Homo sapiens: one gene and its partners. The protein of the gene in region 1 purifies or fractionates together with the protein of each later gene. This does not show direct contact. Each region holds a gene or a part of one and is shown in the gene's direction. Other genes may lie near its edges.

The links.
Region 2: the proteins of CRNKL1 (region 1) and SNRNP70 fractionate together in Homo sapiens (co-fractionation; 2 studies listed by BioGRID). This does not show direct contact.
Region 3: the proteins of CRNKL1 (region 1) and DHX8 purify together in Homo sapiens (affinity purification with mass spectrometry; 5 studies listed by BioGRID and IntAct, with this or other methods). This does not show direct contact.
Region 4: the proteins of CRNKL1 (region 1) and PPIE purify together in Homo sapiens (affinity purification with mass spectrometry; 5 studies listed by BioGRID and IntAct, with this or other methods). This does not show direct contact.

Annotation. Positions count from the first base shown.
Region 1 is NC_000020.11:20,042,202-20,049,539, reverse strand, and holds part of CRNKL1 (crooked neck-like protein 1), read left to right. Parts: intron 1-108; coding exon 109-200; intron 201-1,038; coding exon 1,039-1,197; intron 1,198-1,608; coding exon 1,609-1,775; intron 1,776-1,777; exon of another isoform or gene 1,778-2,392; intron 2,393-4,013; exon of another isoform or gene 4,014-4,053; coding exon 4,054-4,232; intron 4,233-5,877; coding exon 5,878-6,048; intron 6,049-7,023; coding exon 7,024-7,215; intron 7,216-7,338. UniProt on the Homo sapiens protein: Involved in pre-mRNA splicing process. As a component of the minor spliceosome, involved in the splicing of U12-type introns in pre-mRNAs.
Region 2 is NC_000019.10:49,102,451-49,109,442, forward strand, and holds the end of SNRNP70 (U1 small nuclear ribonucleoprotein 70 kDa), read left to right. Parts: intron 1-976; exon of another isoform or gene 977-1,137; intron 1,138-2,183; coding exon 2,184-2,285; intron 2,286-5,174; coding exon 5,175-5,262; intron 5,263-5,344; coding exon 5,345-5,993; 3' UTR 5,994-6,154; downstream 6,155-6,992. UniProt on the Homo sapiens protein: Component of the spliceosomal U1 snRNP, which is essential for recognition of the pre-mRNA 5' splice-site and the subsequent assembly of the spliceosome. SNRNP70 binds to the loop I region of U1-snRNA.
Region 3 is NC_000017.11:43,500,869-43,508,206, forward strand, and holds part of DHX8 (ATP-dependent RNA helicase DHX8), read left to right. Parts: intron 1-3,775; coding exon 3,776-3,957; intron 3,958-6,134; coding exon 6,135-6,329; intron 6,330-6,634; coding exon 6,635-6,820; intron 6,821-6,940; coding exon 6,941-7,151; intron 7,152-7,338.
Region 4 is NC_000001.11:39,734,698-39,742,075, forward strand, and holds the start of PPIE (peptidyl-prolyl cis-trans isomerase E), read left to right. Parts: upstream 1-4,184; 5' UTR 4,185-4,203; coding exon 4,204-4,234; exon of another isoform or gene 4,235-4,596; intron 4,597-5,467; coding exon 5,468-5,566; intron 5,567-6,668; coding exon 6,669-6,712; intron 6,713-7,197; coding exon 7,198-7,224; intron 7,225-7,230; exon of another isoform or gene 7,231-7,334; intron 7,335-7,378. UniProt on the Homo sapiens protein: Involved in pre-mRNA splicing as component of the spliceosome. Combines RNA-binding and PPIase activities.

The DNA of each region.
Region 1 (7,338 bases):
ATATGAACAAAATGAATAACCATTTTAGTACAAGACTTAAAATAGACCAAGGGTGCTGTCATTTTTAGTCATTTGTCTTTTGACTTGACCCTTTTTGCCTTCTTCCAGACTTTTGAAGATAATATAAGAAAAAACAGGACTGTGATTAGTAACTGGATAAAATACGCACAATGGGAAGAAAGCCTAAAGGAGATTCAAAGGTAAAATTACTGAGAGTGTAGTTTTGTATATAATGATTCATAGATTAACAGATACCAAAAAGAAAAGAAGAAAAAGTTAAAGCACAGGTAAAAGATTGTGCCTCGGGTAGAAATTTTCAACTTTGGTTCCATGGAACCCTAGGGTTCCCTTGAGGGCCTCAGGAGTACTGGGGTAGAATAGTCCTGGGGAGGGTGGCAGAAGAGGCTTTAGAGATAGATCTTGTCAGTTGTAGCTAAAGAAGCACAATTTCATTTGCTTTGTATATATTGAGATTTTTACAAATTTCAGCTAAACAATGGCCAAAAAAAATAAAACCAATGGCCAAAAAAAATAAAAATTGCAATCTGGCCCTTCCTGTGGTCTAGCTTTCTGCATTCTCCCCGCATACCTCCTTCCCCCACTGTGCCTGTGTATGTGCCACTCCCTGAATATATCATGTCTCCTTATCGTGAGGCTTGACTGTTCTCCTTGCCTGGAATGAGCACCCCCTCCTCACCAAACTTAGTTTCCTGGTAAATCGGAACGTTCCTCAAGTTCTCATTTCTACAATTACCTACTACTTAGCCTTTTCCACCAAACATTTTCATTTCTTCCTCTCTGTTTCCCGTGCAGATCTTGACTATAACATAAATCACATTGCATTATAATTGCATGCATGTCTTTTTATAAGACTTTGTAAGGTACTTGAGAGCATTATATCTTTTCATTTTTTTATGCCCAGAACTTGGCTCATGGTAGACACCTAATAAAACATCAGTGCATTCCAGATAGTTTGAAATAACTGCTACATGTGTTGAATGCTCTATTTTTGATGCCCTGCAAATCTTGCTTCTTAAGGGCTCGATCCATATACGAGCGTGCTTTAGATGTAGACTACCGAAATATTACACTCTGGCTGAAATACGCAGAAATGGAAATGAAGAATCGCCAAGTCAACCATGCTCGAAATATCTGGGACCGGGCCATAACAACGCTGCCTCGAGTTAATCAGTTCTGGTAAGTTTCTGATCTAACAAAACAGCCTTTTATAGACTAGCAAAGTTCCACATCTTCTGTATTTATTTTATTTACATGATGATAGTTTAATTTGATATCCTACTTTTTCTTCAGACATAAATGCTGTTATGTCCCATAGTCTATTAAGTCATAATCGTAATGTTCTATAGCTATGTAATCAAAACTAAAATTTTGATTGCAATCTTTTATTCATAAGCTTCTTGTTGAACTAGGCAACTTTTAAGAAAAAAAAATCTTTTTTTCCAATGGTTCATCCTTTTTCAGATTTACATACAAATGACAAAACATGTTTGATTTAACCTTTAAGAAAGGTAAAATCTTCAATCTTCTTCCCATTCAACAATGGAAGAACTAAACCACAGCAGATATTTTCGGGTGATTTTGTTACAGGTACAAGTACACGTACATGGAGGAAATGTTGGGAAACGTTGCCGGTGCCCGGCAGGTGTTTGAGCGCTGGATGGAGTGGCAGCCTGAGGAGCAAGCCTGGCACTCCTACATCAACTTTGAGCTGAGATACAAAGAGGTGGATCGGGCCCGCACCATTTATGAGCGATATATCCTTTGGACGAGATCTGTATGGTGCCATGATTGTCCTGGATGCTGCTGCTGCTCCTGTAGAGATGTCTCATGATCAGGACACACAGTCATTAATGTCAGGCTCAAAGTCAAGAATGCCAGTTTATCAGCTTCCCTATGTTTTGTAGGGAAAGAGATTGGTCAGAATGAAAATTTGTATTCTGGGTAACTAGTCTTTTCTAGTGAGAGTTTGGGTTTATTTTATTGTAATGCTAAAAGCTAATGTTTCCTTGTGGAAAATGATATTCCTGGGGGATTGTTTCCAGGAACTCAAGGGGATACCAAAATCGGTGATGCTTAAGTCCCTCATATAAAATGATGTAGTATTTGCATGTAACCTATGCATAGCCTCCCATATAATTCAAATAATCTCTAGATTACTTATACCTAATGCAATGTAAATGTTATATAAATAATTGTTATTCTGTATATTTTAAGGAATAATAAGCAAAAAAACGACATGTTCAATACAGAAGCACTTTTTTCTCACGAATACTTTATCTCAGGTTGGTTGAATCCACAGATATGGAACCCATGGCTGGAGGACTAACTGTACTAAGGTCCTGGCTGCCATTGCCAGTCCTGTTTTTCTAAGGTTTGTGTTGGTCATTACTACCTTACTGGAGTTCATCCAAGGTTTACTGTTTACTAGCTGTGTGGCTCCAGAGAGTCATTTAACTCCTTTGAGAGTTGGTGTCCTCTTCTTAAAAACAAGAATAAAAACACCTTTGTTGGGCTGTTGCGAAGATTAAATGATACACATGAAAGCACTTTTAGAAACTGAAGTACAGTCATTCCTCACTATTTGCAGATTCCATGTTTGCAAAATCACGTATTTGCTAAAATTTATTTGTAACCCCCAAAATCAGTAATTGTGGCACTTTCACAGTCATTTGTGGACATGCACAGAGCATGAAGTCCAACAAGGTGAGGCTTGCCTTCTGGTCTTAACCTCATATAACCATGCCTAGAGCTTGGAGACAGGAAGGGCCAGTGCCATGTAGTGCAAGGAGCTGTGGCTCTGGGGCCAGTCGGGGAGTTTGAATCCCTGTCAGTGGGGCAGCCTCAGTCCAGTCACTTAACATTTCTGAACCACTTTTCTTACAAAATAATGAAGATAGAATCTGCCAGGATGAGTTCTTTTTAGGATTTAAGATGATGATGAATGTGAGATTGTATATATACACGTTTCTCCTAGGAGCAGTGGTTCAGTACTCAATAATTAAGTGTTCGCATTGACTAAATAGAACATAACTACCAGAAATAATGAGAGTCAACTTTATTATGCAGTATTAAGATCTTTTTATTTTTTTACTCTTCTCTGTTGAGGTGACAATGTTAAGATCTTAATTATGTCTACTAATTTTAATATTATTAGTTTGACGAAAGCTTTTATAGCACTTGCTACGTGCCAGGCAGTATTCTAAGTACTTTACAGATATTGTTGTTTAATCCTCATAACATCCTTGCAGTGTAGGAACTTCTCTGTCCTACAGATGAGGGAGCTGAGGCATGAGAGATTAAGTAGCTTGACTGGGTTCTCACAGGTGCTGATGGAAATAGAATGTGAACCTAGTAGAGCAGCTTCAGAACTGATGCTCTTCTTTGCCATATTGGAATATATTACTACTTTGGAAATTAATGATTTATTCAAGGAAGATAGATTAAAATGACAATTCAAAACTTTCTGCTTTGACTCTAGTTAACAGTTTTCTTTTTATAGCATGTTTTTTTCTTAATTATTAGTTCAAGTATTCATATTTTAATATAATTGGTGCTATTTAATGACCAGACCATTATTGACCGCTTACGGTGCCATGTTCTTTTGGCTAGAAACTGTGCTAAGGGCTTTACATACATTTTCTCATTTAAAGCTGGCAGTAATCCAGTGAGGCTGGCATTATTTTTCCCTGTTTACAAATGAAACAGCTGAGACTTAGACGTCTAAGTTCAGTGACTTATCCAAGATCACATGGTTGGTAACCTGGGTTGAGATTTTTCTTTGCTTCCAACTCGAGTTTATACCCACCACTAAAATCTTAACTAAGCACTGGAGGAAAATAGAGATGAACAGGCGTGGCCCTGCTCTCACAGAAGCCACTGTTTAATTCTACACTTTTGTATGTGTTTTGTTCCCCTAGAGTTGTAGTTTGAATTTTTGGAGTTTCCAGGCTTTGGTATGGTTTTGGTGTTTACTTACTTACTATTTTTTTAAGCCATGCTGTTTTGCCTGGGATTTCCTTAATTCCCTTGCACTTGTCCTCGTGCACCCTGATGTTAAGAACTGGATCAAGTATGCCCGCTTTGAAGAAAAACATGCTTATTTTGCCCATGCACGGAAAGTGTATGAGAGAGCTGTGGAATTCTTTGGAGATGAACATATGGATGAGCACCTTTATGTTGCCTTTGCCAAGTTTGAAGAAAATCAGAAAGAGGTAAGTATACCTAACTTCATTATACTGTAAAACAGCTTAGCAAAGATTACATTTTGTGCATGGTGAGTTCATTTCCATTTTTTCTTACTGACATATCCCTGGAAAGATGTTTTCAAAATACAAAAACACAGCTTCTCACAGAGAACAGCATATATATGTGACTAAGCTACAGATGGGAGCTGATTATAGATTGTATTATAACTGTCTTAATTTTATTGTGCTTTGTTTGAAAATTAAGCCTTTTAGTCTGAATGCCCGTAAACTGAGAACTAGTCTTTTGGCATCCTAAGTAAAGGACTTAACCGATAATAAATATGGGAAACAAAAAGCTTAAAGCCCTAGAACAGAAAACATTTAGAATGGAAACAGAGATTGCCCTACAAATAAGAGAGTTCTTTTTTTCCCTTGTACCTATGAAAATAGCTCAAATATTGAGAAGATGAGGCAGAAGGATCACTTGAGGCCAGGAGTTTGAGACCAGCCTGGGCAACATAGTGAGACCCTGTCTCTAAAAAAAAAAATTGAGTGGGCATAGTGGTGCACACCTACAGTCCCAGCTACTTGGGAAGCTGAGGCAGGAGTATCACTTGAGCCTAGGAGTTTGAGACTACAATGAGCTATGTTCGTGCCATTGCACTCTAGCCTGGGTGACAGAGCAGGACCCCATTTCTTAAAAAAAAAGGGAGTTCAAATAATACAGAATTGAGATCCATCCAAATACAGGTTTGAGCATTCCCAGTCTGAAAATCCAAAACTCAAAATGTGAAACTTGTTGAGTGCTGACATGACACTCGAAGGAAATGTTCATTGGAACATTTCAGACTTCGGGTTTTTGGATTAGGGATGCTGAACCAGTAAGTATAATGCAAATATTCCCAAACTGGGGAAACATCCCAAATCCAAAACACTTCTGATACCAAATGCTTCAGACAAGAGATACTCAACCTATATAAGGTCTTGCACGGACCATGCTAGGGAGTTCAGATTCTGTTCGGGCCAGTGGGAAGCATTGAAAGGTTTTAAGCGGGACAGTGATTGGATATGATTTATATTTTAAGGAGAGCCTCTGGCTAATTCATGGAGAATGTATGAGGGTAGATGGCAAAAGTGGAACCAGGGGAGACCAGTGGGGAGACTTTTGAAGTGGGCCAGGTGAACAGTGGAGTTTGATGGCTGGGGGCTGGGGAGAAGCAAATGGCTGTGTGGAAGAGATTGAAATGGTAGGGCATGTTGCAAGAGTGAATATGGAGTATGAGGAAAAAAGAGGAATTGAGGATCACCTGAAGGTTTTGGCTTGAGCAAGTGACTGTAGGTTAGGCCTTGCCTACTAAAATTGGGAAGATGGGGAGAGTCCCAGTTTGAGTGGGGAGGAAACAGAAGCTCAGTTTTGGACCTGTTTGAGATGTGCAGTAGACATCCAGTTGGCAGTGTTAGGTAGACAGTATTAAATATGGAGCTCAAAGCAGAGTACCGGTCCATCCTGACAGAGATAACCTTCAACAAGAGGGAGAAAAGCATCTTACTCTGGATATTATGAGGCCTCAAAATCTAACTTATAAGTAATATTTTGTTATATTTACTCTCCTAGTTGTGACTGGCATGAGAATATTGTGTTATAGAAGGTAATCATCCTGTCTGCATTTAGTTTGAAAGGGTACGAGTGATTTACAAGTATGCCCTGGACAGAATTTCAAAACAAGATGCCCAAGAACTCTTTAAAAATTATACCATCTTTGAGAAGAAGTTTGGTGATAGGCGGGGTATTGAAGATATCATTGTGAGCAAACGGAGATTCCAGTACGAAGAAGAAGTGAAGGTGAGCACTGGTGTGGATGGTCAACTCTGCAGATAACCCAAGATGTGCTCATCAATACTAGCAACACTAAAATGAATAATAGCAAGTAGCACTACTAGTGATTACTCTCGTGATGATGTGCCCGTGATCCAATTGGCAGCTATTTCAGACAAGTAGGAATAAACAAGGCTGATAGAAAAGGCAAGCAAACAACACTTGGATTTGCTCTGCCACTTACATGTTGTAAGTCGTTTTGTTGATTGTTGACTGTATGTAGAACTGGAGCAAAAGAAATGTGGAATCCATTCGAGCTCATTGTTGGAAGAAGGTGGAAGAGTCAGAGATTGGTCCAAAAACCTGTTTTGCACATCACCTTTGAGCTTAACTGCCTGAACAAAAGATGTATGCTAGACAGGGTTCCATCGGCATCTCTTTTTCTGTAATGTACTATTTTGATTTCAATTCAAAGAGAGTGTCATTTTCCTTCAGTATTCTGTTGTGTATTTAAAAATACTCTTCCTTAGTCAAGTTAATTAAGATACCTCCAAGCAAAGGACTAAGTCTGTTATTAAATGTGGTGGTAGGTTAGCAAGATATGTTAAAGATGAATTGCTATTAATTGGAAAGGCAAGTTTAACAATTGTGAGCATGATACGATTCTGTTGTTACAGACATAATGATACATAGTCACATATTTAAGCAAATGCATTGGCAAGAATAGGCATCTAATTATTGACTGTCGTGAGAGTGATGGCTATAGATGAAGGAGTCCTTGCTGTGGGACACCTGGCCAGTAATCTATCCTCTGTATTCCTGTTTCTTTTCTATTTATGCAGTCTCAGGGATGGTGTTTTTAAAATGAAAGAACATGTAACATTTAGAAGAAAAGGTGCTAAAATATAGAAAGTCAGCCTGATGCCTTTTTTCAGCTTGCTTAACCTGGCAAGTGCAGCTCTTGGTTTTGTTTTTTATTTATTAAACTGGTTGTCTTTCTAGGCGAATCCACACAATTATGATGCATGGTTTGATTACTTGCGCTTGGTAGAAAGTGACGCAGAAGCTGAAGCCGTGAGAGAAGTCTATGAAAGGGCCATTGCCAATGTCCCACCCATTCAGGAGAAGAGGCACTGGAAGCGCTACATTTATCTTTGGATCAACTATGCACTCTATGAAGAATTGGAGGCAAAGGTGAAAAAACAGAATTATGTGTCAGCTGATAATGGTTTCCTGTCTTCTGTATTCACAGCTCACCTATTGTGGATGTTTGTAATTCTTGAAAGAAGGAAATTTAGTTTTAAATTTTTATAGGCT
Region 2 (6,992 bases), on another chromosome or scaffold:
GACCCGGCTTCGTGATGTCAGCGGCGAGGTGGCAGGAACACCGAGGGCAGGGCTCCAGGCCAGGGCTCCACTGGAGCCCTTCAGCCTTCCCTCCCTGCCCCCGTGCTTTCTATGGGGCTGCTACTGTGCTGGCCCTGGAGAGTCTTTTTGGCTGCTAGTTTTGGGGTGCTCTGCCCCCTTTCTGTCTTCCTTACTGTGGTTGAGGCCTCCCGAGGGGGCTGGCTGTGGTGTCCAGCAGCTCTCCAGAGGTGGTCAGGAGCTCCCTAAAGTGCATGGAATTGGGGCTTGGGGTGTGGGAGGGACCAAGGGGTAGGCTGCTAGCAGCTGAAGGTGTCGTAGGTTTTTACTAAAGAACCTTCCACTGTCTAGAGACTTGAGAGAGGGAAAGAGAGAGAGAGGCCTAGACGAACACAATCACATGTTTTCTTTGCTGTTCCTCCCGGGATGGGCCTGTTTTGGGGTTTGGGACTCTGAACCCGAGCGGGGTTCCTTCGCTTGACTTTGATCCTGGTCCTTAAATGCCTTTCCCCACTCCCCTCCCGTGGGTTCAGGGGCCAAGCGGCCCCTCCTCAGAGCACGGGCAGCACCGTCTCCTGGACCCCTGTGTGCCAGCCTCTGCAGACGCAGCTGGTGGGAGGGAGCATGGATTTGGAGGTGGAGAAGTCACTCCTGGTCCTCGGAGGGGGTGGGCTGTGTGCCTAGTTCAGTGTGACTCGGGGATTGGTGAGGGCGGACAGGTTTCTGAGGCCTCCCTAGCCTTCTTTGTAAATTCACACGAGATAGTCCAGGGCTTTCCAGCGCCCAGCTTGGATGATAATCCTCGTCTCCCCCACTCTAAGGCCTCCTTGAGATTTCTTTGGGGTCTACCACGTCCTCTGCCTGTCTCCAGGTGGTACAGGAGATGTGGTTCCTCTCCCTCTCCTGGCTCCCTAGAACCCCCCACTTCCCCTCCCTGTAGCTTTAGCTGACCCCGTGGTGGTGGGTGTGGGGTCTGTGCGCGTGCTCAGGTAAGCTTGGGGGCTCCAGGTAAGCGGTCCCGTGTCCCCCCCCCGGGAAGCCCGCCTCCTCGCCAGGCCCCCAGGAGTTGCCGAGCCCCCCCCATCCCGCTCGGTTTGGACACCCGCAAGGCCGGCATCGGTAAATGGCACCTTTTTCTCTTCCTCTGGTTGTTATTTGGGGGGGAGCGGGCTGGGGCGGGGCAGGGTATTACGGTTGGTTGAGGACAGCCCCCTAGGCCAGGGCTGGGTGGGGGAACGGGGACTTTTTGGCCTTCATGACAGCCCCACGTTGATCACAGGCCAGGGCCTCAGGCTTGCCTTCTGCTACGCGCTGCCCGAGAGCAGCAGTGAGCCTCTCCCCCGTCTCCCCTCTACGACTCCCCTTTCCTGGCAGGCTCAGGCTGGGGTGCGCTCCCAGCACGTGTTGAGCCGGGGGTGTGGAGGGCGAGATGGGGCAGGGCTGGGGGGAGGCAGAGTCAGTCGTCTCAGGTAAGGCAGGGATTTTCAGTAGCACCGCACGGCTCCCCATGCTTCCTCCACTGCCCCTCTCCCCTGCTGCAGGGGCCCCGCCAGGCCCCCTGGGAGTGTATAACCCGCCTCTCTGCTCCCTGCCATTTCCTGAAGATTTCTCCCACCCCCTTCTGGTTCATTTTCTGTTCTGATGTCTGTTCCCCCCACACTCACCCCCCTCCAAAAAAAACAAAAACAGAAAAAACCGGTGTGGTCTGGGGTGCGGAGCGTCCCAGCTGGGCCTCCTGCCCCGGCTTGGTGTCTCAGGGTGCATGCTTGGGGTTGTGGAGGAGCCCCCTCCCCCACAGCAGAGTCCAGCGTGGAGTTAACCTTCAGTTTCTTTGCAGCGATTTTGGCCGCCCTGGCGGGAGGGGGCTGTTCCATCATGTGGGAGAGGAAGGGCCGGGGAGCCTAGGGGGTGGCGGGTGAGGGTGGACGTCTCCCCCGACCAGGAGTGGTTGGGGCGCTGAGAGGAAGCAGACGCTGAGATGGAGCAGGCCCTTCACCGGTTTGGGAGAGGGTTGGTCTGGCTGTCAGTTGCCTGGCTGTCTGTTGGGCGTGTGCGTGTGCGTGATGATGGGGACACGGGGCGGGGATTCTGTAGAGCTGGGCCTGTCCTGACTAGAGGACCCTCTGGGGACTCCTCTCCCCTCCCCCTCCCCACATCTGTTACAGCCGCTTACAAACACGCAGATGGCAAGAAGATTGATGGCAGGAGGGTCCTTGTGGACGTGGAGAGGGGCCGAACCGTGAAGGGCTGGAGGCCCCGGCGGCTAGGTGAGCACATCCTGCCTTCGACGGGCTCTCGGGGGCCCTGGGCCTGGTGGCCTTGTTCTCCCTTCTCTGCTGCTTTCTGCTTCTCTGTCTCCTGCCGGCCCACCTCTCCCATCGCGTCCTCATCTCCGGCTTCTCTCTCTTGTGGCCATCACATTTCTGACAGCTGCCTGCCTCCTCGTTCTGGGTTACTGTGAGGAGCAGGGGCACCAGCCTGGAGAGGCCTGAGCCCACATGCTGGCGTCCGCCCTTGCTAGCTGGGGGTCCCCTTTTCCTGCCTCATTGTACTCCTCTTAGTGGAAATAACCCCGAGTTCACTGAGCTCAGTGTACTGGGCGCCCAGCTTGGCAGTGACGCATGCTGGGGTTGTAAATGTCACTCGCTCATCTGCTTCTGCTGCTTGCTGTTGCTCTTGTTCACTCTTTTACTGATTCAGCAAGTACCTATTGGATCACCAGCTGTGTGCCGGGCTTCTAGTTGAGCAACACAGAGGCAGCCTCTGCCCTCTGAGCCTCCTGCATTCGGTCTCCTCATTGTCATTTGCTGTCTCAGGCAAGGTCAGTTTGGCTGCAAGTATCAGAAATAAACTTGAGCTTCCTGAAACATAAAGGGCCCTGTTGATGTAGAATCATGGGCATCCTTTGGAGTTCGGAGGTATGTGATGTCCGTGGACCTGAGAACCTGGTAGCTGACGCTGTTAAGAGCTGGGGCAACCAGGCCAGGCGTGGTGGCTCGCCTGTAATCCCAGCACTTTGGGAGGCCGAGGCGGGTGGATCATGAGGTCAGGAGTTCGAGACCAGCCTGGCCAAGATGTTGAAACCGCATCTCTACTAAAAATACAAAAATTAACTGGGCGTGGTGGCGGGTGCCTGTAATCCCATCTACTCGGGAGGCTGAGGCAGAGAATTGCTTAAACCTGGGAGGCAGAGGTTGCAGTGAGCCAAGATAGAGTCACTGCATTCCATCCAGCCTGGGTGCCAGAGCAAGACTCTGTCTCAAAAAAAAAAACAAAAAACAAAAAAACTGGGGCGACCCACCTGTGATGTGTGACAGCCCACAGCTTGCTTCTGCCTCGTTTGCCTCCATGCAGCTAGGTCGGTCCCATGCCTCTTTGCACTGGCCCAGCGCAGCAGGCCACAGGCCCCAGCTTTACACTCAGTCCTGGATGAGTCTCTTGTTTCGGGGTGGGCACATTTGATTGACTCAGTGTTGGGCCTGGGGTCCTGTTGCTCAGGCATGCTTATTGAGGACTGAATCCTGCAAAGCTGAGTGACAGTTGTCAGAGAAGATGATGGTCCCTGGGCAGACACCCAGGCAGTAGTAGCCACTTGGGGCTCCTGTCCTGCCTCCCAGCCCTGTGTCCTGGCTCTGGACTCGCCTGTGCTAGGGAGACCACGCTCTCAGCTGCTGAGCCTCGGAGCTTACCAGGCATGTTCTTACCTTACTCTGGTCTCTCTGGGGTGGAGTGGGTTCTTATAGCTCTGCTGTTTCCTGTTGGGGCGGGAAAATGCTAGAATCTCAGTCTTTCCAGAATCTCAGAATCTTCTAGTTCAATTGCCATTCAAACTTTTTGTTGGTGTTAGCCAATAACATCTTGACTCGGTGCACCCGCAGAAATACTGTAACCTAAAGTTTGAGGAAACAGTTTTTTCTATGTAGTAAGTATATAGTTGTATTCTGCTGTTTTGTTTCTTAAGATGTTGGTTGCAACCCATCAGATTGATGATGGGACTCATTTCTGGGTCATGACCTGAATATAGGAAAGGCTAGTCTAGCTGCCCTGTGCCTGTGACATGGCAGGTGCCTGGTCCGCTGCCTGCTTCTATAAGAATGTCTCCCTGCAGCCTCTTTTCTATACAGAACTCAGCCCTGCCTCACGGAAGCTTTTCCAGGCAGTGCGAGATAGAGGAGCGCTTGAGAAGGCAGGTTTTGCAGCAGACGGCAGTGACAGCCCAGTTCTGCACCTTCTTTGCTGAGTCACTGTGGGCCAGTGACTTGATCTGAGATTGTTTCCCCATCAGAACCATGAGGTTATCATCTGTGCCTTGGGGCTGTTCATCTATCTATTCACTTGACACACACACATCCACCTTTCTATACCAGCTGCAGCGCCACCTGCTGGTACCGTGAGCAAGAGCTGGGCATGCCCACGGTTCCGGTGCCCTGCAGTCTGGTGGGAGAGGCAGGTAGGGGTCGACTCAGGTAGCAAACCTGAAACTCCAGGGGAAGGAAGCGTTTCTGCAACTGTGAGTACATAGGACTGTGAGGAGAGACTTCCCGAGAAAGGATGTTCGGGCTAGCGTTAAGGGTGAGCGTGAGTTCACCAGAGAAGGAAGGGGAGACCAGTCCAGGGCAAGGAGAATGCACAGACACTGGCAGGAAGGTGAGCGTGGGGACACTGGGAAAGGCCTGGGACACGCAGCCAAGAGCCGCGGCTCAGACGCTAGCAGGGCCCGCTCTTGCTGCCTCTACCACCAGTTGACGAGGAGTTTGGACCTTAGGCTGGGGGACGCCAGCAAAGGCTTCTAAGCAGATCACATTTTTGGGTGGAAAGATCATTGGCTTCGGGTTTCTGTGAGGGCGAGGATGATTGGAAGGGAGGGTTTTGAGGAGGCTGTGAAGTGCGCTATGGTTAAGATGATGCGCTTTGGGGCCAGACATGGGTTCCAGTAACGGCTGTTGCCTAGCGAACGCTTTGTGTGAGTTAATTAGAGAAGACGTGGCTGTCTTGTGATGGGAGTGCGCGGGATGAACTGCACGGGGGGACCCGGCCCTGTGAACACTAAGCCAGGGGCTGCCTTCCTGCCCTTTGCTCTTGGAGTCGGCTCATTTCTGCTCCTCCGGGCCCTGTCCCTGCCCAGATTCACCCTCTGTCCGTCTGCCCTGCCCCAGGAGGAGGCCTCGGTGGTACCAGAAGAGGAGGGGCTGATGTGAACATCCGGCATTCAGGCCGCGATGACACCTCCCGCTACGATGAGAGGTAAGATTGGGCGACCGGTGTCCTGGGGTGGGGGGCGGTCACGGGGGGAGCCCAGCCACACAGGTCTGCCCACCTCATCCAGGCCCGGCCCCTCCCCGCTTCCGCACAGGGACCGGGACCGGGACCGTGAGCGGGAGCGCAGAGAGCGGAGCCGGGAGCGAGACAAGGAGCGAGAACGGCGACGCTCCCGCTCCCGGGACCGGCGGAGGCGCTCACGGAGTCGCGACAAGGAGGAGCGGAGGCGCTCCAGGGAGCGGAGCAAGGACAAGGACCGGGACCGGAAGCGGCGAAGCAGCCGGAGTCGGGAGCGGGCCCGGCGGGAGCGGGAGCGCAAGGAGGAGCTGCGTGGCGGCGGTGGCGACATGGCGGAGCCCTCCGAGGCGGGTGACGCGCCCCCTGATGATGGGCCTCCAGGGGAGCTCGGGCCTGACGGCCCTGACGGTCCAGAGGAAAAGGGCCGGGATCGTGACCGGGAGCGACGGCGGAGCCACCGGAGCGAGCGCGAGCGGCGCCGGGACCGGGATCGTGACCGTGACCGTGACCGCGAGCACAAACGGGGGGAGCGGGGCAGTGAGCGGGGCAGGGATGAGGCCCGAGGTGGGGGCGGTGGCCAGGACAACGGGCTGGAGGGTCTGGGCAACGACAGCCGAGACATGTACATGGAGTCTGAGGGCGGCGACGGCTACCTGGCTCCGGAGAATGGGTATTTGATGGAGGCTGCGCCGGAGTGAAGAGGTCGTCCTCTCCATCTGCTGTGTTTGGACGCGTTCCTGCCCAGCCCCTTGCTGTCATCCCCTCCCCCAACCTTGGCCACTTGAGTTTGTCCTCCAAGGGTAGGTGTCTCATTTGTTCTGGCCCCTTGGATTTAAAAATAAAATTAATTTCCTGTTGATAGTGGGCACCTCGGTTTCTTCCTCACTGCTCTGTTTTCCCCAGAAGGTTGTTCCTGACTTGATAGCCCTGCTTGGTTTGGTTTCCAGGGTGTACTTAAAACTTGAGCGTTAGGACATGAGGCTGGCTCTGCCCAGTAGCCAGAGCTGTTGAAAGTGGGGTGAGGCGGCCTCTCGGGCTCCTTGTCTCCCTTGTGTTTTTCACCCTTTTTTCTTTTTCATCTCTGCCACACATTCCTCAGGGCTGACCATACCCCTGTCTTGGTGGGGGGCTGGGAATTAGGAGGGGGCTTGATTACTCAGGGGAAGCCGCAGTTTTGAATATGCAAGGGAAGCTACCATCTGCAAGGGAGAGCGGCACACAGGGTGAGGAAAGGCAGAATACACTGGGCACGGGTGAGACGGGGCAGAGCAGGAAGGGTGGACCCACATCATAATAAGTAGTGACAGAGGAGCAACGAGCAGAAACACAGAAGAGGTTCCACCAGCAATTGAGATTTCAAGCAGATTCCTGGACAAAAGATTAAAGACATTGGTGGTGAGAACACTTCAGTCTGGTGAGTGCAGGGAAGGAAGCCTGTCAGCCTTGCAGAACCCTAGAGGGCCAAGGCTGCAGCTCCAGGAGAGCAAGGGTGGGAGGCCAGAGGGAGAGCGGGGTACAGAACAGTTGGCCTCCCTGTTGGCACTCAGGATGCCTGGGAGCTGGGCCGGGGGTGCCTAGGCAAACCTGCTTGTGTTCAGACCTGCTTGTGTCTTGTAGAAGCGTCTCAGCCTGAAGGCAAACTTGGCCTGATAACTCAGAGGGTCTGTGACTGACACGCAGGATTTCAGTCTGCTTTT
Region 3 (7,338 bases), on another chromosome or scaffold:
CCACTGCACTCCAGCCTGGCTACAGAGTGAGACTCCGTCTCAAAAAAAAAATTTTTATTCTAAAGGTAATACAGCTTTGAAGCTTCCTTTTTCATATAATTCTTTGTGCAGTAAATATTAGCTACTAGATATAGTCATAACAAATACTTATTAATTTAATTTGTGTTTGGCAACTGGGGATACGATTTGAATTAAACAGATATGATCCCTGCTTTTATGCGCTACAACTTAGTCGGGGATATGGATATTAATTAAATAATCACCAAATAATTAAATTATGATCAGTGCCATGTGAAGAAGTACAGGCAGTGTAATTGACTGTGGTGGGTCACTTCCCTGGGGAAATCGAGACCCAAAGGATAAATTGGACTCAGTCTGTCAAGTGGAGATGGGATGGAGGTTGGGGAGTATGTTCCAGCCTGAGGAGTAGCCCGTGTTGGGTTTGTGGGGTGGGAAAGAAGGAACTGAAAGAAGGCTTGTGTGGATGGAATAGAGAGAGCAGTGGGCAGTGGTAGGGGATGAGATAAGAACATCAGGCCAGGGCTTTGTAGGTGGCATTAGGAAGCTGGGCTCAATTCTAATAGCACTGGGAGATGTTGAAAAGTTCTTTTGTTGTTGTTGTTTTTGTTTCTGAGACAGAGTTTTGCTCTTGTTGCCTAGGCTGGAGTGCAACACCATGATCTTGACTCACTGCAACCTCCACCTCCCTGGTTCAAGTGATTCTCCTGCCTCAGACTCCCAGGTAGCTGGGATTACAGGCATGCACCACCACGCCTAGCTAATTTTTTGTATTTTTAGTAGAGACGAGGTTCCTCCATGTTGGTCAGGCTGGTCTCGAACTCGCGACCTCAGGTGATCCCCCCCCCATCTCAGCCTCCCAAAGTGCCGGGATTACAAGTGTGAGCCACCGTGCCCAGCCAGATGTTGAAAGTTTGCAGCTGGCACATGGCATGACCAGAGTTGCATTTCCAAAGGATGATTGAGGGTGCCCTGCAGAATGAGTTGGATGGGGCACATGTGATGATTTAGAAAGCTTTTATGAAGAGAGAGAATGGTGGCTTGAACATGGAGGTAGCAAAGAGGAGGGATGTACTTGAGAAAAGTAATTTGTTGAATGTGGGGCAACAGGAATGGTCAAAGATGACTTCCAGGTTTCTGGTATGAGCACTAGGATGAATGATGGGAACACTGGAGGAGAAATGGGTTTGTGGGGAAAGATGGTCAAATTCCGTTTTGGACTTGTGTCCGAGGCAACTAGAGGACATCTTAGGTTGAGGTATCCAGTGTAGAATTGAGTATAAGAGCTCAGAAGAGAGGTCTGGGCTGGAGACAGAAGTTTGGGAATTGTGTTAATTTAGATATCAGTTTGGCTGCATGTAATAGAGATTCAAATATTAGATTAGGTTCGGCATGATGGCTCACGCCTGTAATCCCAACACTTTGGGAGGCCGAGGCAGGAGAATTGCTTGAGGCCAGGAGTTCAAGACCAGTCTGGGCAACATAGTAAGACCTTATCTGTATTTTATTTTATTTTGTTTTGTTTTGTTATTTTAGTTTAGTTTAGTTTAGTTTTTGAGATGGAGTCTCACTATGTTGCCCCAGCTGGAGTGCAGTGGTGCAGTCTTGGCTCACTGCAACCTCTGCCTCCTGGGTTCAAGCGATTCTCCTGCCTCAGCCTCAAGTAGCTGGGACTACAGGTGACCGCCACCACGCACGAGTAATTATTTTGCATTTTTGGTAGAGACAGCGTTTCACCATGTTGGTCAGGCTGGTCTCGAACTTCTGACCTCAAATGATCTTGCCCACCTTGGCCTCCCAAAGTGCTGGGATTACTGGTGAGCCACCGTGCCTAGCCCTTGTCTCTATTTTAAAATTAAATTTTTAAAAACGACAAAAATAAAAACCAAAATATTAGATTTACAGTAGAAGGTTGGACATATTCGTTCATTGTTTAACAATATCATCTTCCATTTCCTCAGAATAAACCCATTCATTCCCTTTTACCCTTTAGTGAAATGTTCTCCATGACCCTCCTTTGGCCTCTGCCTAAGCTCACTTATTTGGTTAGTAGGCATAAGTATTTTTTCGTAGCCAGCTTTTGGCATCAAATTTGTAAAATGTTTGCATATGCTAGAGAGCCACTAAAATTCTGCTCATTTTTTTTTGCTCCTCAAGCCACAATTCCAAGGTGAATCTTGAAAATATAAGCTAGGTCTGGGCAAGGTGGCTCACACCTGTAATCCCAGCACTTTGGGAGGCTGAGGCAGACAGATCACTTGAGTTGGGGAATTTGAAACCAAGCTGGGCAATGTGGTGAAACCCTGTCTCTAAAAAAATACAAAAATTAGTCCAGGCATGGTGGCTCATGCCTGTAATCCCAGCAGTTTGGGAGGCTGAGGCGGGTGGATCACCTGAGGTCAGGAGTTTGAGACCAGCCTAGCCAACATAGTGAAACCCCATCTGTGCTAAAAACAGAAAAATTAACAGATGTGGTGGCACGCACCTGTAATCCCAGCTGCTAGGGAGGCTGAGGCAAGAGAATCACTTGAACCTGGGAGGCGGAGGTTGCAGTGAGCCGAGATCACGCCATTGCACTCCAGCCTGGACAACAATTGCGAAACTCCATCTAAAAAAAAAAAAAAAAAGTTTAGCCGTGTGTAATCACGTGCACCTGTATTCCCAGCTACTCAGGAGGCTAACGTGGGAGGATTGCTTGAGCCCAGGAGGTGGAGGTTGCTGAGCTGAGATCTCGCCACTGCACTCCAGCCTGCTGGGCGTCTGAGCCAGACCCTGTCTCAGAAAAAGAAAAAAATTAATCTGAGAGAAACCAGGCACAACAGACCACATATTGTATGAAGTATCCAGAATAGAACCCGTAGACATAGAAAGTAGACTAATGGTTGCCAAGGGAAAGGAAAAGGGAGGAATGGGGAGTAACTGCTAATGGGTACAGGGTTTCTTTCTGATATGATGAAAATACTCTAAATAGTGGGGATAGTTGCACAACTTAATGAATATACAGTAAAACACTGAGTTAAACACTTAAAAAGAGTAACACGGAGACCTGGCTTGGTGGCTCATACCTGTAATCCCAGCACTTTGGGAGGCCAAGGAGAGAGGATTCCTTGAACCCAGGAATTTGAGGCTGCAGTGAGCCGTGATTGCGTCACTGCACTCCAGCCTGGGAAACAGAGCAAGACCCTGTCTCAAAAAAATAAAATAAAATAAAAAAAGTGTAACATGGTTTGTGAATTACATCTCGATATAGCAGTTATTTAAAAAGGGGAGAGTGCTGCGCATGGTGGCCATACCTGTAATTCCATTACTTTGGGAGGGTGAGATGGGTGGATTGCTTTAGCCCAGGAGTTCGAGACCAGCCTGGCAACATAGAGTGACCTCTTCTCGCTTGAGCCCAGAAGGTCGGGGCTGCAGTGAGTCAGGATTGCACCACTGCACTCCCACTTGGATGACAGAGCAAGACCCTACCTAAAAAAAAATAATTCCAGTGTCAAGCAGTCAGGTCTTCACTTCTCTCAACTAACCTTTTTTCTGACATCACAGGTGTGTAGCACCACTTGTTACAGTCTCTTTCCCATTCCCTGCTGCCCCTTCTATATTCTTTTCTTCACATTAATTTGTTTCTTTGAGTACTTTTGATCACGGGTCGCTGAATTGAGATGCTGCATGTGCAGTGCCCGCATGCCATTTTATTTTTTTCCTGGTACATCTTGAGGTAGCTTGAGGACAATACTAAGTTGCCTGTTTTCCTTTCCAGCGGAAGGCAGACAGATTGCTGCCAACATGAGGGGTATTGGGATGATGCCCAATGATATTCCTGAGTGGAAGAAGCATGCCTTTGGGGGCAACAAAGCCTCTTACGGAAAAAAGACCCAGATGTCAATCCTTGAGCAGAGGGAGAGCCTGCCCATCTACAAACTGAAGGAGCAATTGGTCCAGGTGAGAAGACTTTTATGATGTATTGGTGGGGAGTAGGGTTATTGTCTAAAAGAGGGGTGATATTTTTAAACTGAAACTAACGGGACAAGTATGTGCCTACTTGAAGTGGCTCATCCAAAAGAGTTAAGAAAGAAGGATAAAACTTTCTAAATACTTTTTTTTTAAATGGGGCTGGGCGCGGTAGTGGATGCCTATAATCCCAGCACATCAGAGGCCAAGGCAGGAGGATCACTTGAGCCTAGGAGTTTGAAACCAGCCTGAGGCAACATAGGGAATCTTGTCTCTACAAAAAATAAAAAATTTGGTGGGGCGTGGTGGCCCACACCTGTAATCCGGCACTTTGGGAGGCAAAGGTGGGCGGATCACAAGTTCAGGAGTTCGAGACCATCCTGGCCAACACGGTGAAACCTTGTCTCTACTAAAAATACAAAAAATTAGCTGGGCGTGGTGGCGCATGCCTATAATCCCAGCTACTCTGGAGTCTGAGGCAGGAGAATCGCTTGAATCAGGGAGTCGGAGGTTGCAGTGAGTCAAGATCACGCCGCTGCACTCCAGCCTGGCTACAGAGAGAGACTCTGTCTAAAAAAAAAAAAATTACCTGGGTGTGGTGGTCCATGCCTGTAATCCCAGCTACTCGGGAGGCTGAGATAAGAGGATTGCTTGAGCCTGAGAGGTCGCGGCTACAGTGAACTGCAATCACACCACTGCACTCCAGCCTGGGCGACCAAGTGAGACCCCATATCACAAATGTTTGTGTGTGCGTGTACAGACACACATACTTATGTATGTGTCTGTATATCTTCTTTTTCCTGGGGCCCCTAGAACAGTTTCCAAGTGGGCAGAGTATTGTGTTGCATGGACCAACAGCTCTGTTCAGTAATTAAAAATGAGGATACTCAGTCAATAAACTCATATGGGCAACTCATAGAGTGCTTCGGTACTCTATATTCTGGAGTTCTGATTTTAAGACCACCGAGTCTTCCTTGAGGTAATCAGGTTTACTAGTTTCTAGTGAATCCTTTCAACAATATCTTATATGTATACAAGCAAGTACAAATATATGCACACACACGCACACACATTTTATATGAGTACTGTGTGTGTTTACAGGTGGCAGTGATATTATATACACTGTTCTACATCTTTTTCCACTTAATGATATATCTCAGAGATTTGTGTGTGTGTGTGTGTATGTGTGTGTGACAGAGTCTCGCTTTGTGCAGGCTGGAGTACAGTGGCTTGATCTCAGCTCACTGCAACCTCTACCTCCTGGGCTCAAGTGATCTTCCCACCTCAGACTCCCAAGTAGATGGGACTACAAGGCATACACCATCATGCTCAGCTAGTTTTTTGTATTTTTTGTAGAGATGCGGTCTCACTATATTGTCCAGGCTGGTCTTGAACTCCTGGACTCAAGCAATCCTCCCTCCTTGGCCTCCCAAAGTGCTAGGATTACAGGCATGAGCCACTGTGCCTGGCCTTCTTAAACAAACAAACAAAAAAAATTGCCAGGCCAGGCACAGTGGCTCACACCTGTAATCCCAATACTTTGGGAGGCCAAGGCGGGCGGATCACCTGAGGTCAGGAGTTCGAGACCAGCCTGGCCAACATGGTGAAACCCTGTCTCTACTAAAAGTACAAAAATTAGCCGGGCGTGCTGGCGGGCACTTGCAGTCCCAGCTACTTGGGAGGCTGAGGCAGGAGAATCACTTGAATCCGGAAGGTGGAGGTTGCAATGAGCTGAGATCATGCCACTGCACTCCAGCATGGGCGACAGAGTGAGACTTCATCTCAAAAAAAAAAAAAAAGCCTTTTTTTATGGGCTGTATTATTTGGATAGGCTCTGGTTTATTTAACTAGTCCTATATCCATAGAAACATCGTTGATTGTAATCCTTGGCTGTTACAAACAACGTAGAAATAAGAAATAACTTTTGGGGAAAGATATAGAAATTTGGGAGTTACAGTGGGAAGGAACATTTTTTATGTATCTTTTAAATTCATTGTTGACTTCTTTAACTATATGTGTATATTCCTCTTTTCTTTGGTGTTAGAATATAGTAATTATTTTATTCCAGAGTAATGTAGATTTTAATGACCATATTTATATTCTGTTTAATGACCATATTTATATTCTGGCAGATTTTAATGACCATATTTATATTCTGTTGCTTTCAGGCCGTCCATGACAATCAGATCCTGATTGTCATTGGTGAGACAGGATCTGGAAAGACAACACAGATCACCCAGTACCTGGCGGAGGCAGGCTACACTTCCAGGGGCAAGATTGGGTGTACCCAGCCCAGAAGAGTGGCAGCTATGTCGGTGGCCAAAAGAGTGTCAGAGGAGTTTGGTTGTTGCTTAGGCCAAGAGGTAAGTAGATAGTGGAGTCGCTCGAAAAATACCAGAAGCAAAGGCCCAGGTCTCTTAATCTATCAAATGGAAATATTAATAATACTGCCTTTTTTCAGGTTTCTCCTGAGGGAGAGAGGGTTCCCATTGTCATAATCAGTCTGTTCAGAGTATAGTCTAAGACATACCTTACTATGAGGAAATTACTGTACATCTTGATCAGATTCTTAAGATTATGAGTGAGAGTGACTGGGCTGAAATCTTGCCTGGTGATTGGGAAAAGGAGACATTTGTATCCTAGGTTTTCCCCTTCTCTTCTGCTTTAGGTGGGCTACACCATTCGATTTGAGGACTGCACTAGCCCTGAAACAGTCATCAAGTACATGACAGATGGGATGTTGCTTAGAGAGTGCTTGATTGACCCTGACCTCACTCAGTACGCGATCATCATGTTGGACGAGGCACATGAGAGGACAATTCACACTGATGTGCTCTTTGGATTGTTGAAAAAGGTAACTAGATGCTCTTTAATGACCCCTCTACCTGTTGGAAGCTGAATTCTGGCAGTTGGATTTGAGTACCTGTGTCTTTGGGTAGTCCTTTTCAGTAAGCCACATAATATTTCTCTTCAGACAGTTCAGAAACGGCAGGACATGAAGCTGATTGTCACCTCAGCCACCTTGGATGCAGTGAAGTTTTCTCAATACTTCTATGAAGCTCCCATTTTCACCATCCCAGGTCGAACATATCCAGTGGAAATACTGTACACAAAGGAACCTGAGACAGATTATCTGGATGCCAGCCTGATTACTGTTATGCAGATTCATTTAACAGAACCACCAGGTAAGGGGAAAAAGCAATTTTCCTTTTTGGGAGGCCTAATTTTCCCTCTTAGGCCAAAAGTCCTCATATGGGTATCTTTTTTGCTAATCTTTTTAAAAACAACTTCTAAATATTCATCTCTCTGCAAGCCTCAGGCTTGTATGTTTGAAATGATGGTGGTTATAATGTCATATATAAACAAACTTGT
Region 4 (7,378 bases), on another chromosome or scaffold:
GTCTTACTCTATCACCCAGGCTGGAGTGCAGTAGTGCCATCTTGGCTTACTGCAACCTCTGGCTCCCGAGTTCAAGTGATTCTCCCGCCCCAGCCTCCCGAGTAGCTGGGACTACACGTGCACACCACCACGTCCAGCTAATTTTCGTGTTTTTAGTAGAGACAGAGGTTCACCATGTTGGCCAGGCTGGTCTTGAACTCCTGACCCCAGGCAATCCGCCCACCTCGGCCTCCCAAATTGCTTGGATTATAGGTGTGAGCCACCACACTCAGCTTCATAGTTAGTTTTTTGAGTCAGAATTTCACTCTGCCACCCAGACTGGAGTGCGGTGGTACAATTTCGGCTCACTGCAACCTCCGCCTCCTGAGTTAAAGTGATTCTCCTGCCTCAGCCTCCTGAGTAGCTGAAGCTACAGACAGACACCACCACACCTGGCTAATTTTTGTGTTTTTAGTAGAGGCAGGGTTTTGCCATATTGGCCAGGCTGGTCTCACACTCCTGAGCTCAAGAAATTCACCCGCCTCCGTCTTCCAAAGTGCTGGAATTACAGGCGTGAGGCACTGAGCGCGATGGAGAATCTATACAGTTTTATATCACCACCACTCCCCTCAAAATGCGCTGAATTTGGTCAAAAACCATTACTTCTCCCCTTCGCCTGGATTCTGAATGGTAGCATTCAGGTGTCGAGTGGTTGGAGTGTCCTAACTTTGACCACCATCGAGTGCTGTCCTTTCCTTGGGTGCTAACCCACTGCTTCTCCTGGTTCCCAGGCACCCCAGCCTGCTGTCCATGTGCAGGCCAGGAACCCCTGACTGCCTCCATGCTGGCGGCAGCACTTTCCCAAGAACAGAAGCAGGTGCTGAGTGAGTGACCCACGCGCCTACGAAAGAAGAGAGGGCCAGAAGCTGGTGCTGACGCAGACACCAAGGTTACTGAGATTCCGTTTGGTTTTTTATGAACTATCTTCCCCACAGGAGACATTTGTTCCTCCTTATCCAAACAATGCATTCAAACTTGGCTGTAAAGATTGTAGGAAGAGATGCACAGGGCAAGGTGGGAATGGAGAGGGGCTGGTGAGCTTCCATGCCCTCTCTAGGCATGCTGTGTTCCAAGCACATCAATGTATTCACCAACCTGGAAACTCCCCAAACCGCATTTAGAGTGTTTATATGAGGTTTCATTACCTAGGCATGGCTGATTAAACCACTGGGTGTTGGTGATTGAACCCAATTTCCAACCCCCTCCTCTCCTCAGAGGTTGGAGGCGGGAGCTGGAAGTCCCAACCCTCTAATCACATGGTTGGTTTCTCTGATGACCAACCCCCATCCTGAAGCGAGCTAGGGGTTCTACCTTGAGTCATCTGCTTAGCACAAACTTAGGTAGGGTCAAAATGGGCTCATTATGAATAACAAAAGACACAGCACTCAGGATATTCCAATGATTTTAGAAGCTCTGTGCCAGGAACTAGGACAAAGACCAAGTATCTATTTTTTATTATACCACACCACATAAAGGACGCCTGGTCAGATTCTTCCTGAGAGTGACCTTTTGTTTTGGAATAGTGACGGGTACACAAAGAGCTCTCCTAATCAGATCTCACAGCCTCATTCCTATAAGTATCAACTCCCTGGTTTGGCATGAGGTTGGTAAGGTCAGCTGTGTGCGCAGCCACTGCTTAGCTCTGGGAATACAATGGGTACAGGCCGTGGTGTCAAATACCTTCATCTACTGGGAGAGAGAGACATACCTGACTATAGTTATAGGGTGTATTCCAATTGACTTCTGAACTTGGGGACTATGGACTCTGTCTATAGGGGATTTGGGTGAGTGAAGCTTAACTAGGACCTCTGACAAGGACTGGTGGGTGCCTCCAGATGGAGAAAAGAAAGAACTCAATGAGCAAAAGCAGAGGCAAGGAAAAAGAGCCCATGGTAAGTAGGTGAGGAACTGATGTGGAGGTCAGGGTTGACTTGAGGTAGGCATGGACCCCTTGTCAAGGACCTTGTTAGCAGCATCAGTGATTTAGGTAGGGAGTTCTAGAGAATTTAGGTTTATTTTGAAGAAAGATAACCCTAGGCCGGGTGTAGTGGCTCACACTTGTAATCCCAGCACTTTGGGAGGCCGAGGCAGGAGGATCGCTTGAGTCCAGGAGTTTGAGACCAGCCTGGGCAACATGGCAAGACCCTGTCTCTAAAAAAAAAAAAAAAAAAAAAAAATTAGCTGGGCATGGTGACGTGCACCTGTACTCCCAGCTGCTACTCGGGAGGCTAAGGTGGGAGGATCATTTGAGGCTGGGAGGTTGAGGCTGCAGTGAACCATGATCATGTCACTGCCTTCCAGCCTGGGTAAGAGAGCAAGACCCTGTCTCAAAGAAAAAAAGAAAAAAAAAATCACCCTGGACAAGTGGATTGGAGGAACAGAGCCACTATCAACTCTTCCTTAGTCTACTACATTAACTTCCTGGTCTCCTGGGTTCCAATCAACCCATCCTGGGCCTAGTGTCAGAGCACTGTCTAAAATGATGTGAGCATGTAACTCTCCTGTTGTAACTTCAGCAGCTTCTCAAAGCTCCCAAATCTTCCAGAAGGCTTACAGCACCCTCATGATGTGGCCCTCTGCCTACCTTTCCCACCTGATATGCCCTCCACCCCACCATCCCAGGCTCTGGTCTTTTAGTTCCTTGAGTGTGCGGAAGCTGCCTCCTCCTCTCTCTGGCTCCTTTTCCTTCAGAATTCAGCTTAAATGTCACCTCAGGAAGGTCTTAACCCCCTGCTCCATATAAAATAGATGGTCCCATTATTTCCTACCACTATGTCAACCTGTAATTTATATATTAGTGGGTTTAGTCCAAGATGTTACTCTAAACTGCACCATTTTGTAAGCTCCCTGCTATTCTGCAGACCTTGGTCAAAGTGAAACATTTCACAGGGGTTTGGGCTGTGAGAAACATCCTGCCTAACCACCCGACCACAAGGCAGACAAAGGCCCAACTAAAGAAACATCCCTCTCATATCTTCCTGGGCAAAGGTCCAAGGGACACCATGATGACATCCCACTGGAACAAGGGCCAAACCGCCTCATCATGAGAACATCTTTATATCAATATCCTGCTAGGCAGCAACCCATACTGCCCAGACCCCTACCGCCCATACCTATAAATTGCCCAGTCTGTAAGCAGTGGTGGGCACTGGCATTAGGCTGGTTCCCCACTTCTGTAGGTTATTATGCTGGACATAAAGCCTGCGTTTGCTGTCGAGCCGCCCTCTTTCTGTGTGTGTGTGTGTGTGTGTGTGTGTCTTTCTTTAACCCTTGCCTTCTTTTCAAAACCTAACACGAGTAGACAAACGTTCTTTCTGAAGAGCCAGATTGTAAATATTATTGTAGGCTTTGCAGGCTATAGCTCTTCTGCCCTTGTAGTAGGAAAGCAGCCACAGTCATACTTAAAGGAATGAGCGTGGCTGTGTCCCCATAAAGCTTTCTTTACGGACACTGAAATTTTAATTTCACATAATTTTCATGTGCTAAGAAAATATACATATATATTTTGTGAGATGGTGTGTCGCTCTCGTCACCCTGGCTGGAGTGCAACGGCGCGATCTCTGCTCACTGCAACCTCCGCTACCTGGGTTCAAGCGATTCTCCAGCCTCAGCCTCCTGAGTAGCTGCGATTACAGGCGCCCGCTACCACGCCTGGCTAATTTTTGCATTTTTAGTAGAGACGGGGTTTCACCATGTTGGCCAGGCTGCTCTCGAACTCCTGACCTCAGGTGATCCGCCCGCCTCAGCCTCCCAAAGTGCTGGGGCTACAGGCATGAGCCACCACGCCCGGCCAAGAAAATATAGTTTTTTTATTTTTTCCAACTATTTCAAAAGGTAAAATTCATTCTTAGCTCCCAGGTTGTCCAAAAACAGACGCGCAGGATGGCCAAGCACCAGAGTTTATCGTTTGCCCATAATAATCGGGTTGATTCGGCCAAGGTTTCCCTCCCCCAACACGGTGCGCACTGGGAAGCGCGAGGACCACGTCCCTTGGTTTACCACTGCGCACCTCACAAGGCGCCCAGTGCATCCGGGTAGCGGGATGCCGGTTGGACCAACGCGAGGGTGGGCGGGGTCTAAGAGCTAAGCGTTGGGGGCGGGGCGGGACAGTGGGGAAGAGGACGGGTCGAGTGCTGGCTTCCGGCGGAAAAGCGCGCGAGCAAGATGGCCACCACCAAGCGCGTCTTGTACGTGGGTGAGCAGGAGGGGTTGCTAGGCGGAGTCTGAGTGAACGCGACCCCCAAGGGTCGGGGCGTGGGGTGGGACGCATCTCTGAACCAGGAGGACGGCGAGCTGCTGTCAAGGCCGGGTCTCTGGCGGTAGTGCTGGCGATAGCTCTGGCTGTGCTTAAACTCCTTCCAAGGTTTCCCACTGTCCTCAGGAAAAAGTGCAGACTTCTTAGCAGTACGCACTTCTCCAGCTTCTTTGCTTTGCTTCCCGATTCGCTGGGTCTCCCGAAAAATGACCCACTTGCCCCCAAGGTTCAGGTTATTTCACACCTTTGGGCCTCTGCTTTTGCGACTCCCTTGCAGTGAACAGCCTTGCCACACACCTCAGGTGCGTGAACCCGAGACGGAATGATTATTCTGACTTCCTAGCCCGCTGAGCTCCAGCGGGCCCCGAGGAGCGGTAAAGGAGTATTATGGCCCTTCGGATCCTCTCGTTCATTTGTTTTACAAACATTCAGTGCAGCGACGGCTCAGCCCCAGCCCCTGCCATAAAGGAAGGAGTTCCCAGACTAGCCAGAAAAAAAGTGGAATTACCTCAGTAGCACACTTTTGATAAGCGCTGTAGTGAGGATGGATCATGATAATATGGGCCTGGCTGCGGGACAAATGACCCATCCATCTGGAGAAGCGAGGGCAAATTCTGGATGCGGCGATGCCAGAGCTGATGAGCAGGAGTTAGCTACGTAACCGAAGCAGAGGCAAGGCCGTTCACTGCAAGGGAGTCGCAAAGGTGTGAAATAGCCTGACACTTGGGGGCAAGTGGGTCATTATTCGGGAGACCCAGGAAATTAGGAAGCAAAGCAAAAAAGCTGGAGAGGTGGGTACTGCTAAGGAGTTTGCACTTTATCCTGAGGACAGTGGGAAGCCTTTGAAGGAGTGTAAGCGAAAAGTTACGGGTTCAAATTTGCATTTTCCTAAGATCATTCTAGTTGGCTTTGTGGAGTTGATGGAATGGAGGCAGGGAGGTCAGTTGTGAAGCTATTGCAGTAATCCCAGGACTAGATGAGAGTCTGAAAGAAGGGCGAAGAGAGGAATATTTTTCATAAGTATGGGTGGGCAGAGATGAGAGGGGGATGTTTGTTTACCCAAAGAACTGAATGGAAGGGTCCTGTCCCCTGGCTAGCATGCTAACTGGGCTGCAAGGACTTCTGCAAGAGTATGGAGATCAGTGGCTCAGAAGGCCCTTGGCTTATTTGCAGGTGGACTGGCAGAGGAAGTGGACGACAAAGTTCTTCATGCTGCGTTCATTCCTTTTGGAGACATCACAGATATTCAGATTCCTCTGGATTATGAAACAGGTGAGTTAGTGTCTCTCACGTTCAGAATCCTCTTACTAGGAAAATACCTTAAAAAATTAAAGTCACATCACAATTCTAAATATGCATTCTAAATATGGTTAGTATACACTACAGGTAAGTTCAGGAAGGTGTCTGGTGACAGTGATCTCGATGGAGAAGGAATGTTCTGAGGCCATGTGGTTGTGAACTCTGAATACTTTCCAGAGTCTTCAGCTGTTGGGTTGAGATAAGACAGATTTTTCAATAGACCAGTAGGGAGATAGGTTTGAACTACATTGAGATTTGAATGTTGTTTTAATCTACCTGATGGGTACCCCATCCCACCTGCACCTTCTTGCAGCTGTGCTATTAAATGAGGCAGCGGGAAAGCCTAGCCCCATAATGGGGGTGGGTGAGGGCGGGGGTTCTTGGCCTCTGCACCCCTGGGTGGGTTTCCCATCGATTGGTATCACAACCACAGTTCAGTTTTCTGTTTACCTTTGTTGTCATTTTTAAGATTATAGTTTTAGGCCTAGTTTTATCATCAACCTTGCATATGATTGTTAGCAAAGTCTTTAAACTCTCTGGGCCTGGGAAATCTTTATTTGCAAAATGATAAGGTTATGTTGGCTTTCTAAGGGCCTTCTAGTCTCTGAGTTCTATGATAAACATTATTGTGCTTGGTCTTTCTAGTTAGTTCAGCATTTTCCTGAAGATAAAGACTGAGCATCTTTATCAGGTTTTAGGATTCATGCTTTATGCACAGTTGATGCGCAAAATATATATTTAGATAGATAATTGATAGGTCAAATGACTTTATTTTTCTAATTGCTTTGCATGCAATGGTTAAGGTTTTAAGTTTGGCTTTCGTAGAATAATTGAATACTTATCAATTAAAAATACAGTTTACTATTCAGCTATGTCCATTAAAAAAACAAAGTTTATTATTGCTTAAAATATTGTATAAGAAGAATCAAGAATGAGATTCCTTCTTCCTAAATAGTGATTGGATAGAACTTCTGGTGTTTGGATACGACATGTAACTGACTTCACTTTGTGACCATCCTGTTTCTTCCCACTACCCCACATAGTAATTACTTGTTTTTGTTTTTCCATTTTGTAGAAAAGCACCGAGGATTTGCTTTTGTTGAATTTGAGTTGGCAGAGGTGAGAGTCTGTGTTACTAGTGTCTAGTCCTTGGTTTGTGATGTTGTTACTGATTACAAAGGAAGCTTTTCACCATTTGGTTAGGTTTTTGGGCCTTAGGCTGATGCTTCCAGAGAGATCAGAAGTAAGTGCTGTTCTAAGGAAAGCGTCTCTCACATAATCAGACTGGACTGTGAATAACATGTCAGACCTGCCAGGCCCTCCCATTCTTGCCCTGCAGAGGAGCTAGCTCATGCACCCCTGTTCATTGAGCATTCTTGCCTGGAAGTAGTGATTATTTCTTGTGCCTTCAACTAGATGGCAAATTGTTGCACCACCAGCTCTAAAATCAGCCAGGAAGTGCTCTTTGTTAGAAACACACAAAACCTAGGCAAGAAATACAGAGGTGGCATTTTTCTGGATTTTTGCTACTGAGCATGTGTTTAGACACCATAAGAAGCATTTGGCTGCAAGCCTAAACTTGTACCTTTGTCTTTCCTTGGCAGGATGCTGCAGCAGCTATCGACAACATGGTATGGCTGGGAATCTTAATTCTAACTAAAGTTGCTTTTTGGTGGTACAGAGGCTCCTTATTCATATATCAGTGTTCTGGACTTCCAAAGTTACAAGGTTGCATGGGGAGGTAAAAATTCTCACATGAAAATATTCACTGTGAATTGATCACTT